Regions from separate parts of the Homo sapiens genome. Here region 2 is linked to region 1. A link means that fine-mapping ties the variant in region 1 to the expression of a gene that starts in the linked region. Tissue or cell type: whole blood. Region 1 holds a variant in brackets; the other region holds the start of a gene. All regions are shown on one strand. Distances are between the middles of the regions.

What was found. PIP is the estimated chance that this variant, and not a neighbour inherited with it, causes the effect.
Region 2: it holds the start of SOX4, and the variant in region 1 is fine-mapped to the expression of SOX4 in whole blood (TOPMed, PIP above 0.99).

Annotation. Positions count from the first base shown.
Region 1 is chr6:21,853,926-21,859,075 of GRCh38, reverse strand. The region is part of intron 4 of CASC15 (cancer susceptibility 15); the gene reads right to left. Among named protein-coding and RNA genes, the nearest start is that of CASC15, 190 kb to the right of the region's middle. RefSeq lists a silencer at 2,364-2,658. The variant C/T (reference allele first, on the strand shown) is at 3,065.
Region 2 is chr6:21,590,769-21,595,918 of GRCh38, reverse strand. It overlaps SOX4 (SRY-box transcription factor 4), which reads right to left and starts at 2,168. Exons shown (of 1, transcript NM_003107.3): 1 at 1-2,168. The coding sequence starts at 1,384. RefSeq lists silencers at 418-467, 518-607, 1,378-1,557.

The sequences.
Region 1 (5,150 bases):
GGATAGAAGGTTTCATTAATGTCTGTGATGGAATCATGAACCACAACAGTGAGGCATTTCCGCCTCTGGCCTTTTTTTGGTTTTTGTTTTTTTTAGAATCAGGATCTCACTCTGTCGCCCAGGCTGGAGTGCTGAGGCACAATCATAGTTCACCGCACCTCGAACTCCTAGCTTCAAGCGATCCTCCCACCTCAGCCTCCCAAAGTGTTGAAATTACAGGTGTGAGCCACTAAGTCCACCTGCCTTTTTAAGATGTGTTTGAAAATATCCAGGAGAGCAACTCAGAAGTTATAGTCTTAAAACATACCCATTCAGGCAGCTTTGTTTTCCATGCGGAAAGCCCAGGTTGGCTGATATTCCTGGAGGCTTCACGCATCCTGGGAGGCGGCTGAGGTATTCCTTTTCTCCCTTTTAAACAACTGACAGACACTTTCCAGCATCTTCCTGGTGGCTGAGTTGATGAGGGATTTTTTCCCCTCGTACAGTCCTATTTATGAAAATCAGCAGCTAGTTGGTAGCAGGTTAAGAAGCTCCAGGTGTTGGGGGAAAGCAAGCTCCCCATAATTAGCATTTTCCCATTGAAATATCATTATATCCCTGAAATATTATAACTTGAGTGTCCTTAATTTTCTACAGATTTTTATTTTGCAGTGTGAACAAGATCCTTAAGCTCAGAGAAGAATCATTTCCTAGGAAAAAGACTAGCAACACAGATGCTCCATGCAACCACTTCTTGTAAAACACCAGTACTTAGACACACAGACAGATTTTTAAACATAATTCTAAGTTCAACAGACCAGACTCAACGCACAGTGATGCACAAGAATGGGCTATGTGCCCACCCCCAAAACACTGTGGAAGCACACTAAGAATGAGTTCTGATGAGCAGGTGTTCCAGGCAGAGAAATGCTTCTAGTCAGAATCACCCTGAGTTTCAAAAACAGATTTTTAAAGATCAATTTCTAGGTGCATGTTTTTTGTTTTTTGTTTTTGAGATGCAGTTTCGCTCTTGTCGTCCAGGCTGGAATGCAGTGACACGATCTCGGCTCGCTGCAACCTCTGCCTCCTGGGTTCAAGCAATTCTCCTGCCTCAGCCTCCCGAGTAGCTGTGATTACAGGCGCACGCCACTGCACCAGGCTAATTTTTTGTATTTTTTTTTTTTTTAGTAGAGATGGGGTTTCACCATGTTGGCCAGGCTGGTCTTGAATTCCTGACCTCAGGTAATCTGCCTGCCTCAGCCTCCCAAAGTGCTAGGATTATAGGCGTGAGCCACCACGCCGGCATTTTAGTAATTTTAACGGAGACGGGGTTTCACCATGTTGGCCAGGCTGGGGTCACAAACTCCTGACCTCAAGTGATCCACCTGCCTCAGCCCCAAGTAATATATTTTGCGGTAGCTTTTTGATGCAAATATCAGATTATTGTACTGAGACAGGAATATTTTGGACTGATCCTTAAAAACCCATAAAATTTTAAGCTGCTTTTAAAAAAACTACCCAAAAATGACATCCATCAGACAACAACCCTTATCCTATACCCAGTGGGTCAGGGCTAGGCTAAACCACAGAAAGTTATGGAAATGAGTACATCGCTTGCTAAATAAAACCAGGGGTTACATTGTGATGAGATGCATCTGGTCAACCCCTTCATTTTATAGGTGAGATTCAGAGGAATGGCCTCCCCTGGCTAGGAAGTAAGAGAGCCAAGACTTGCTCATATTTCTTCTCTCTAAATCTATGCCCTTTCCATGGTTTGATACTTCCTATGTATCGATGACATTTTACATTCCTATTATGTGTAAGGTAGCTAGACTTTCTTTGCCCAGCTGGCTAAGCAGCATTAGCTTGGTTTTTCACAGGCAAGCCTTCTACAGTCTTCTTCGAATGTACTTGTAGACTCTTTTTCAAATGCATTTGCACACTAATATGTATATTAGTTTTTTATTGGTGCATAACAAATTACCACAAACTTAGTGGCTTAGGCAACAGGCATCTACTAGCTCACAGTTTCGTAAGTCAGAAGCCCAGCCCATCATGACTGGGTTCTCTGCTCAGTGTGTCACAAGGCTGAAATCTAGGTGTTGGACTGAGTTCTCATCTAAAGCCTCTAGAGGAAAAAGCCCCTTAAAAGCTCATTCTTGTCATTAATAGAATCCAGTTCCTTGCAGTTGTAGGACTGACATCCCCACTTCCTTGCTGGCTGTCAGCTCCTTGGGGCTGCCGGCATTCCTTGCCACACAGCCCCCTCCATCTTCAGCTCACAAAGGTGCATTTGAATCTTCCTCATGCTAAGAATCTCCAGCTTCTCTTTCCTCAAGCAGCAAGACAAAACTCTCTGCTTTTAAAGGGCTGGTGTGATTAAGTCAGACTCACCTGGATATTCTCCAGATCTTAAGGTCAATTATACCATAGAACATAACTAGTCAAGGGAGTAAATTCATCACAGACATAGTTCCAGGGATTACTCAGGGTGTGTATGCAACACGGGTCTGGGAGTGAATCATGGGGGCCATGTCAGAATTCTTCTTCCACACAATGCTAATAAGGGCATGTTTATATTTCCCCTAACTCTGCCAAATTAGAAAGCAATTATTCTGTCTGAAGTAAGAATGATGTAGTGGCATGGACACAATTTAGAAAGACCCTTCACAGAAACAAGCATATTCTATGGCTTAAAACTTTCCACTTCAACCGGGATAGCAAAGGGGTAGAAATCATAAAAACAGATAAAGGAGAACAATCTGGGGATGAGACTGAAATTGCCGAGTGAGACAGTGGGGGTGGGGTCTAAGGAAGCAGCTTTCACAACTGTCACATACAACAGACTGTAAGAACATGCTCCGTCAAGATTGTGTCATCTGTGTGCCCCACCCTCCTTTTTTGGGTTAAAGCATATAGCACTAGTTTCATTATAGCAGGGACCATATCTACCAACCATCAAGGATAAGCACAATGCCCAGCACATACTTAGCGCTCAATCAACATTGATTCAAATAAACTTGAGGTCAGAGGGGAATGCTGATACATGCTGCTGATTCTGCTAAATTAGTCAGTGTTCTCCCCT[C/T]CCCCAACAATGAGCACTTAGCCAGAAAAAAAGTGAAAACAGAATTGGGAACTTCCTTTTAAAAATGAGTGCCACCTCAGTTCCCTTCATTTCGCCCTATCAAAATACTCCACTAAAATAAAACTAAAGGAGTTTCTCAGAATGCAGAAATCTACAAGGACAAGAAGACTGAGATGACAGCAGCAACAATATCACGAAAGCCAGAAAACTGATTCATGGTAAGTAACCAGCGTGATTTAGCGTGGATCCTAAACTAGCAGTGATGAAAGCAGAACCATCCAAAGCCTTCCCAGGACCTCCGAAGTAGGGATTCAGGTGAAGCTTGTGAGCACAGCAGACTCTCAGGCCCCACGCCAGACCCACTAAATCAGAACATTCAGGTAAACAAATTTCAGACATGCATACTCACTTTATTTACTTATATTTTTCTTTTTTTAGAGACAGGGTCTCACTCTGTCACCTAGACTAGAGTGCAGTGAAGAAATCATAGCTCACTGCAGCCTCAAACTCCTGGGCTCAAGCAATCCTCCCGCCTCAACCTACTTAAGTAGCTAGAACTACAGGCTCATGCCACCACCCTGGCTAATTTTTATTTTTTTGGTAGAGATGGGATCTTGCTATGTTGCCCAGGCCGGTCTGGAACTCCTGGCCTCAAGCAATCCTCCAGCCTCAGCCTCCCAAAGCACTGGAATTATTGGTGTGAGCCACTGTGCTGCCCCCATATTAAGTAGCACTCAGTTTGTTCTCCTCTTTTTCTTTTAGGACGTGTATCAAATTTTCCTGTGTTCCAGGAATTCCAAATTCAAAGAAACAAGAGAACAATAATAGTAATTTTATTTACCAAGTGTCAGGAATCCAAATGAGAAAATGTCTGTACAGGAGACACACAAATACCACAAATTAGCAAATCTAATTGGGTTTTTTTTGGGGGATATTTTTCTGACATTACATGCAATAGTTTTATTTGTCATAAACATTGTGTACATCTTTGACTTCTTTTAGATGTTGTGGTAGTGACATACATATTTGCAATTTATATTGCATGTGTCAGCATATTGAAAATCAGCTCAAATGACCAATTTGTATTATATAACTTGTAAGTTCTAAAAACTTAGTATTAGTAGTACTCCCTTTCCCTGAAGATTTCTTTAAAATTTTAATTGTGTGCCGGGCGCAGTGGCTCACGCCTGTAATCCCAGCACTTTGGGAGGCCTAAGCGGGCAGATCATGAGGTCAGGAGTTCGAGACCAGCCTGACCAACATGGTGAAACCCCGTCTCTACTAAAAATACAAAAATTAGCCAGGCGTGGTGGTGGGCGCCTGTAGTCCCAGCTACTCAGGAGGCTGAGGCAGGAGAATCGCTTGAACCCGGGAGGCGGAGGTAGCAGTGAGCTGAGATCATGCCACTGCACTCCAGCCTGGTGACAGAGTGAGACTCCATCTCAAAAAAAAAAAAAAAATTTAATTGTGGGTGGGTGTGTGTGTGTGTGTGTATATATATATATATATATATATATATATATATAACATAAAATTTACCATTTCAGCCTTTTTTTTTTTTTTTGAGACACAGTCTCCCACTATAGTGTGGTGGCACAATCTCGGCTCATGCAACCTCCACCTCCCAGGTTCAAGCAATTCTCCTGCCTCAGCCTCCCTAGTAGATAGGATTACAGGCACACGCCATATTTTAGCCATTTTTAAGTATACAATTCAGTGGCATTAAGCACATTTGTTCACATTGTTTTTCTATCACCAGCAGCCTGCCACAGAACTCTTGAATTTGCAAAACAAACTCTGTACCCATTAAACAGTAACTCCATTCCTCCACCCCTGCTCCAGGTAAGCTCTAAGCTACTTTCCGTTTCTATGAATTTGCATATTCGAAATATTTCATATTTTTGAGATCATACCATATCTGTCCCTCTGTGTCTGGCTTATCTGAGTTAGCACAGTGTCCTCAGATCCATCCATGTTGTAGCATGTGTCATAATTTCCATCTTTTAAAGCTGAATAATCTCCCATTGTGTGTATATACAACATTTTGTTTATCCATTCATCTATGGATGGACTTCTGGGTTGGTTC
Region 2 (5,150 bases), 260 kb after region 1:
AGTCTCCCGAGATCATCTCGCTCACCTCGGGCGTGCAGTAGTCCGGGAACTCGAAGTGCGAGCCGGAGCCGGGCTCGAAGTTAAAATCCAGGTCCCGGTCGAGCGCCGACGACGAACTGAAGCTGCCCAGGGACATGCTCTCAAAGTTTGAGCTGGGGTTCAGGTCGAGCAGGTCGTCTTCGAACTCGTCGTCGGAGGACGAGGAGCCCGAGGAGGAGGAAGAGGAGGAGTGGGACGAGGCCGAGGAGGACGCGTGCGAGGGCGCGCTGGACGGGGCGGGCGAGGCGGCGCGCAGGCTGGCGTAGCCGCGGTGGTCGGCGGGCGAGCGGCCGGCGGCGGGGGACGAGGCGGCGCTGCTGCGGCCGCTCAGGCTGGGCGCGTCGGGCGAGCAGCCCGCGCCCTCCTCCTCGTACAGGCCCAGGGGGTCGCTGGGGTCGGCTCCCGCGCCCACGCCGCCCACGGGCGACGACGACGTGCCCAGGCCGCCGAACAGGTAGACGCGCTTCACCTTCTTCTCCGCCAGGTGCTTGCCCGGGGCCGCGAGCGCTGCGGAGGCCGAGGCTGCCGAGGAGGCGGAGGCCGAGGCGCTGGGAGTCCGCGCCTTGTACAGCGAGTGGTGGTCGGCGGCGGCGCCCAGGGGCAGCAGGGCGGCGGCCCCCGCCTGTTCGGCGGCGAAGGAGGCGGCGGCGGCAGCCGCTGCTTTCCCGCCGCCGCCGCCGCCTGCCAGGATGAGCTTGGCGTGCGGTTTGCTAACCCCACCGCCCGCGCCGCCCGCCACTTTGGAGCCGCAGCTCTTTTTCTGCGCCGGTTTGGAGTTGGCGCCGCCGCCACTCGCACCGCCGCCTCCTCCCCCCGCGTTGCTGCTCCCGCCGCCGCCGCCGCCCCCATGGCCGCCCCCGCCACTGCCACCGACCTTGTCTCCCTTCTCCCCCGGCTTGGAGGAGGCGGCGGCCGAGGAGCTGGAGTTGGCGTTGCCGGACTTCACCTTCTTCCTGGGCCGGTACTTGTAGTCGGGGTAGTCAGCCATGTGCTTGAGGCGCAGCCGCTCCGCCTCTCGAATGAAAGGGATCTTGTCGCTGTCTTTGAGCAGCTTCCAGCGTTTGCCCAGCCGCTTGGAGATCTCGGCGTTGTGCATGTCGGGCGACTGCTCCATGATCTTGCGCCGCTCGATCTGCGACCACACCATGAAGGCGTTCATGGGTCGCTTGATGTGCCCACTCGGGGTCTTGCACCAGCTCGGGTCGTCGGCCTTGCCGCCCGTGGAGGCGGTGGAGCCGGGCGTGGGGGAGGAGGCGATTCCCAGCTCGAGGCCGGCGCCCGAGTCCGAGCTCTCGCCGGCCAGCAGCGCTTCCGTGTTCTCGGCATTGTTGGTTTGCTGCACCATGGCCTCGGCTCGGCGGGCGCCCACGCGCGCTCACACCCTCGCGGCGGCCGCCGCGCGATCGCCGGGCCCTCCCGGTTCCCCGGGCCAAGCACACGCCGAACGGGAAGACGCGCGCGGCGGCCGAACTGGCCCCTCAACTCCTCGCAGGGGCGGAGGTGGGTAAAGAGAGAAAAGTCCCCAAAAGATTTGGGGAAGGAGTTCTCCGCCTCTCGCAGAGGAGTTATAGTTCCCAGGCTGGAGAGTCTCTCTCTCCCTCTCTCTCGCTCTCTCACCGCGCTGCAGTTTGCTGTCTCTCGGCTGAGTCTGGAGACCGTGCTAAAGTAGAGAGGAGTTTCTCGAATGCTGGTTGCTGAAGCTTCCAATGCAAGTTTCTCGCGGCCTCCCAGGCAAGTCTTTTTTTTTTTTTTTTCTTTTTCCCTGAAGCAGTTGATTCCAGTTCACGAGCGCTCTCGGTAGCTCAGGAAAGCGACATAGTCTCTAGCACTTAGTCCCTCTCCTACAATGCAAAGCAAAAAAGACTGTGGCTCCAGGACTCTCTGTGGGCGGAATCGGCACTAAGGAGTTGGTGCAATTATTTTGTTGCAAGGTAGGAAGCCAAAAAGCCTGCATGCAACAGACTGGCATGAATAAATGTATGTTTCCCCCTCCCTTCTGCAAGAAGGGAGCTGGTAATGGCAGGAGTTCCTCCAGTGCAGACTCTTAAAGAGCGTGCAAGAACTAGAGACCCGACAGCGAAACAGGCCTCTTCCCCTCACACACAGTTTCTCTTGCTGCAGCTTAGAGCAGACCCCAATTCCGCCTCGCGCCTCTTTATCCTTTCACAGTCTTGGCTGCAGCCAATCAGCTGCTGTAACCAACGCTTCCTCATGCCAAACCCCTCCCCCGGGCTTCCCATTGGCTTGGAACCCGATGCAATAATAATCTCCGCGTGCAATGAGAAGCTCCAAATCTGACCTCATTCCAATTTACAGAGCAAACTTTTTAAAAGGGCTAGAAGTACAGCTGAGATTTCTGCTGCCTCTTTTTTCCTTTTGCTGTGTGTGTGCGCGCGCGTGTGTGTGCGCGCGTGCGTGTGTGTATAGTGTGTGAAGAGGATGTTAATGCATGAAATTATTAAGGGGAGAGACGGAAATGTATTCTAACCATTATGTTAGATAACAAGGGGCTTGGAACGGGGCGGGGTAAGGGTGAAATACTGTAAATGGAAGCTTTCTGCTTAAAAGCCAAGTGATTATTTTTATTAGTTCTTTTCAGCATTGGAATAAAGAATCAGCCTCTGGTGCAAAATCTGTTCCCCAGCTCTTTCTTAAAGCCAAAGCTGTAAAGGGGAAGAGAAAGCCACAAAACAATAAATCAATGGATATTGAAAACCATTAAGAAAGTGGTACCTAGACACCTGTCATCACAATTATTTTAACAACTCTAGGTACAGCACAGATGTTGATGTATTGTGTAAATCCCTTCAGAACCGTTTTTGTGCTGTTTGTGGAAGGCAGGGAAGAGGACTTTGCAATAATTGCTTACTCTCTTAACCAAGCAAGGGTCAACTATGGTTATTTAATGATTTAAACTCCCTGTAAATCCTGCATAGCCCAAACAGGGGAGCTTTCCCTTGAAACACATTAGGTAGTGCTCCGTAATTACCTCAATAGGCAGATTTCCAGAGTTTTGTATAGGATGTATAATGGCATGTAAAGGATGGAAATCGGTTTTACTTTCTAAATATTTGTTTTCCCTGTTTTCAAAATTAAAGATTGCTTCACTCTCTTCCCTCTCCTCCTCCCAAAGCCATCTTCCTCCTTTCCTTCTTATATATTTCCTCTTGTTACTTGAATCGAAGGGAACTGAAAAACCAAGGCAAAGAGAAACTGTAGAAGGAGGTGATAACTGGTAGCAGAAGAGAATGGGGCCTCCGGATTCATAGTAGACCTGGCTGCTAATCCTTCTTAATGGTTTGTAACTATGGGGATGTGGCCAAGTCTCAGTTTTCCTCATCTATTATATGGGAACACTAGGAGCTACTTTATAGAGGGTTGTTGTGAGGGTTCAATGAATTTGTGACTATGAAGCACCTGATGTATTGTAAGCCCTCAATGAATACTAATATCTTCCTTTCTAATTCAAATGCCAGACACACTCCTAGTAAAAGCTGCATGTTGTTCAAGAGGCTAAAACAGAATAGCCACTTATGTAAAAAAGTAATAACAGGCAGGACGCGGTGGCTCACGCCTGTAATCCCAGCACTTTGGGAGGCTAAGGTGGGTGGATCACTTCAGGTCAGGAGTTCGAGACCAGCCTGGTCAACATGGTGAAACCCTGTCTCTACTAAAAATTAAAAAATTAAAAAATTAGCTGGGCAGGGATGCATGCGCCTGTAATTCCAGCTACTCGAGAAGCTAAGGCGGGAGAATTGCTTGAACCCAGGAGGTTGCAGTGAGCTAAGATTGAGCCACTGCACTCCAGTGTGGGTGATAGCGTGTGACTATCTCAAAAAAAAAAAAAAAGTAATCACAGATCATTGATGTGAACCATAGAAGGACAATAGTGGCAACCCTGCCATTCCATTGATTTTAAAAGAAAGGAACTCCATGAAGAATACTAAGAAGAATGTGGCAAAGAAAGGATGCCAAGGTATTCAAAATAAACGTTGGCTACAGAAATTACTTGTTTTCCAGTGTCTGAAAATTAGAATTGTAGTAAAAATCAGCTTTCCTTAACACTATAATAGGAAACTAATATTCTTCAGGCTAACCATAAGTGGTTAGGTAAAGTCAATCCAAAATAATTAAGTCGGCTTTTGATTCAGATTAAACTAGTGCTGGGTAGTAAATTTCTATGTATCTTGTCAAACTTTTAAAGTATGTAGGCTGGCAATAGGCCCAGGTTGTCAGACTTAGAATTTTACTGGAAAGAACACCCTATGTAGCCATCTGACTGGATCTGTAAGGATCAACCACAAGCAAAACTGTTTTTGTGGGTAAAAGCAAATAATTTTTGACGATTAGCTACTTGTATTACATAATTTTTTTAAAAAAGGAGAAACAAATCCTTAAAAAAAGAAAAACCCAAACCAAAAACACACAGGCACCTTTTTTGCATAACAGTGTTGCTGTGTTATATACTACATTTTCTCTGGTGTGCATAGAAACACATCCTTAAATGTTACCAATCTGACAAAAAAAAATTATTTTAAGAGGGCTATTATCTATAAGATCAATATTTTCACTAGAATAAAAAAGAATATTTATTTTTGAATTTGTACTAACTAATGATTTGAGGGTGTAGCTAGTTTGATAATTCAGTCAAGTTGAGTATCAACATTATTGATTATATTTCTCAGTCATTTATGCTTCCATCATCGAATATGATAGGGAAGAGTGGAAGTTAAAGCAGTCATATATGTTTCTGCTTAAAACACATGGATTTTTTAAAGGGTGTACTAAAACACAGCCACTGGCCTCATTCTTTTGTTACATGTATTTTCTGTATTTCAACAAATCCAACAAATTTTAAGACACACCATTATATTACATTCCACCAAGGAAGAAAGCTGCCAATGAAACTGTGATATCCCCCTAGATGTAGGATGCCTCCTTATTTCAGGAAGAGTTGAAATGAAAAGAAAAATTTCCTCTTAGACTTGATGAAATATGGTATCAGTAACTTCCATTGACTTTATAATTACTGCATATATATTTATATATTACACAAGTGCCTAGACTTCTGAAATAGATCTGTTCTAATGGGTTAGTTCTCTTAGAATGTA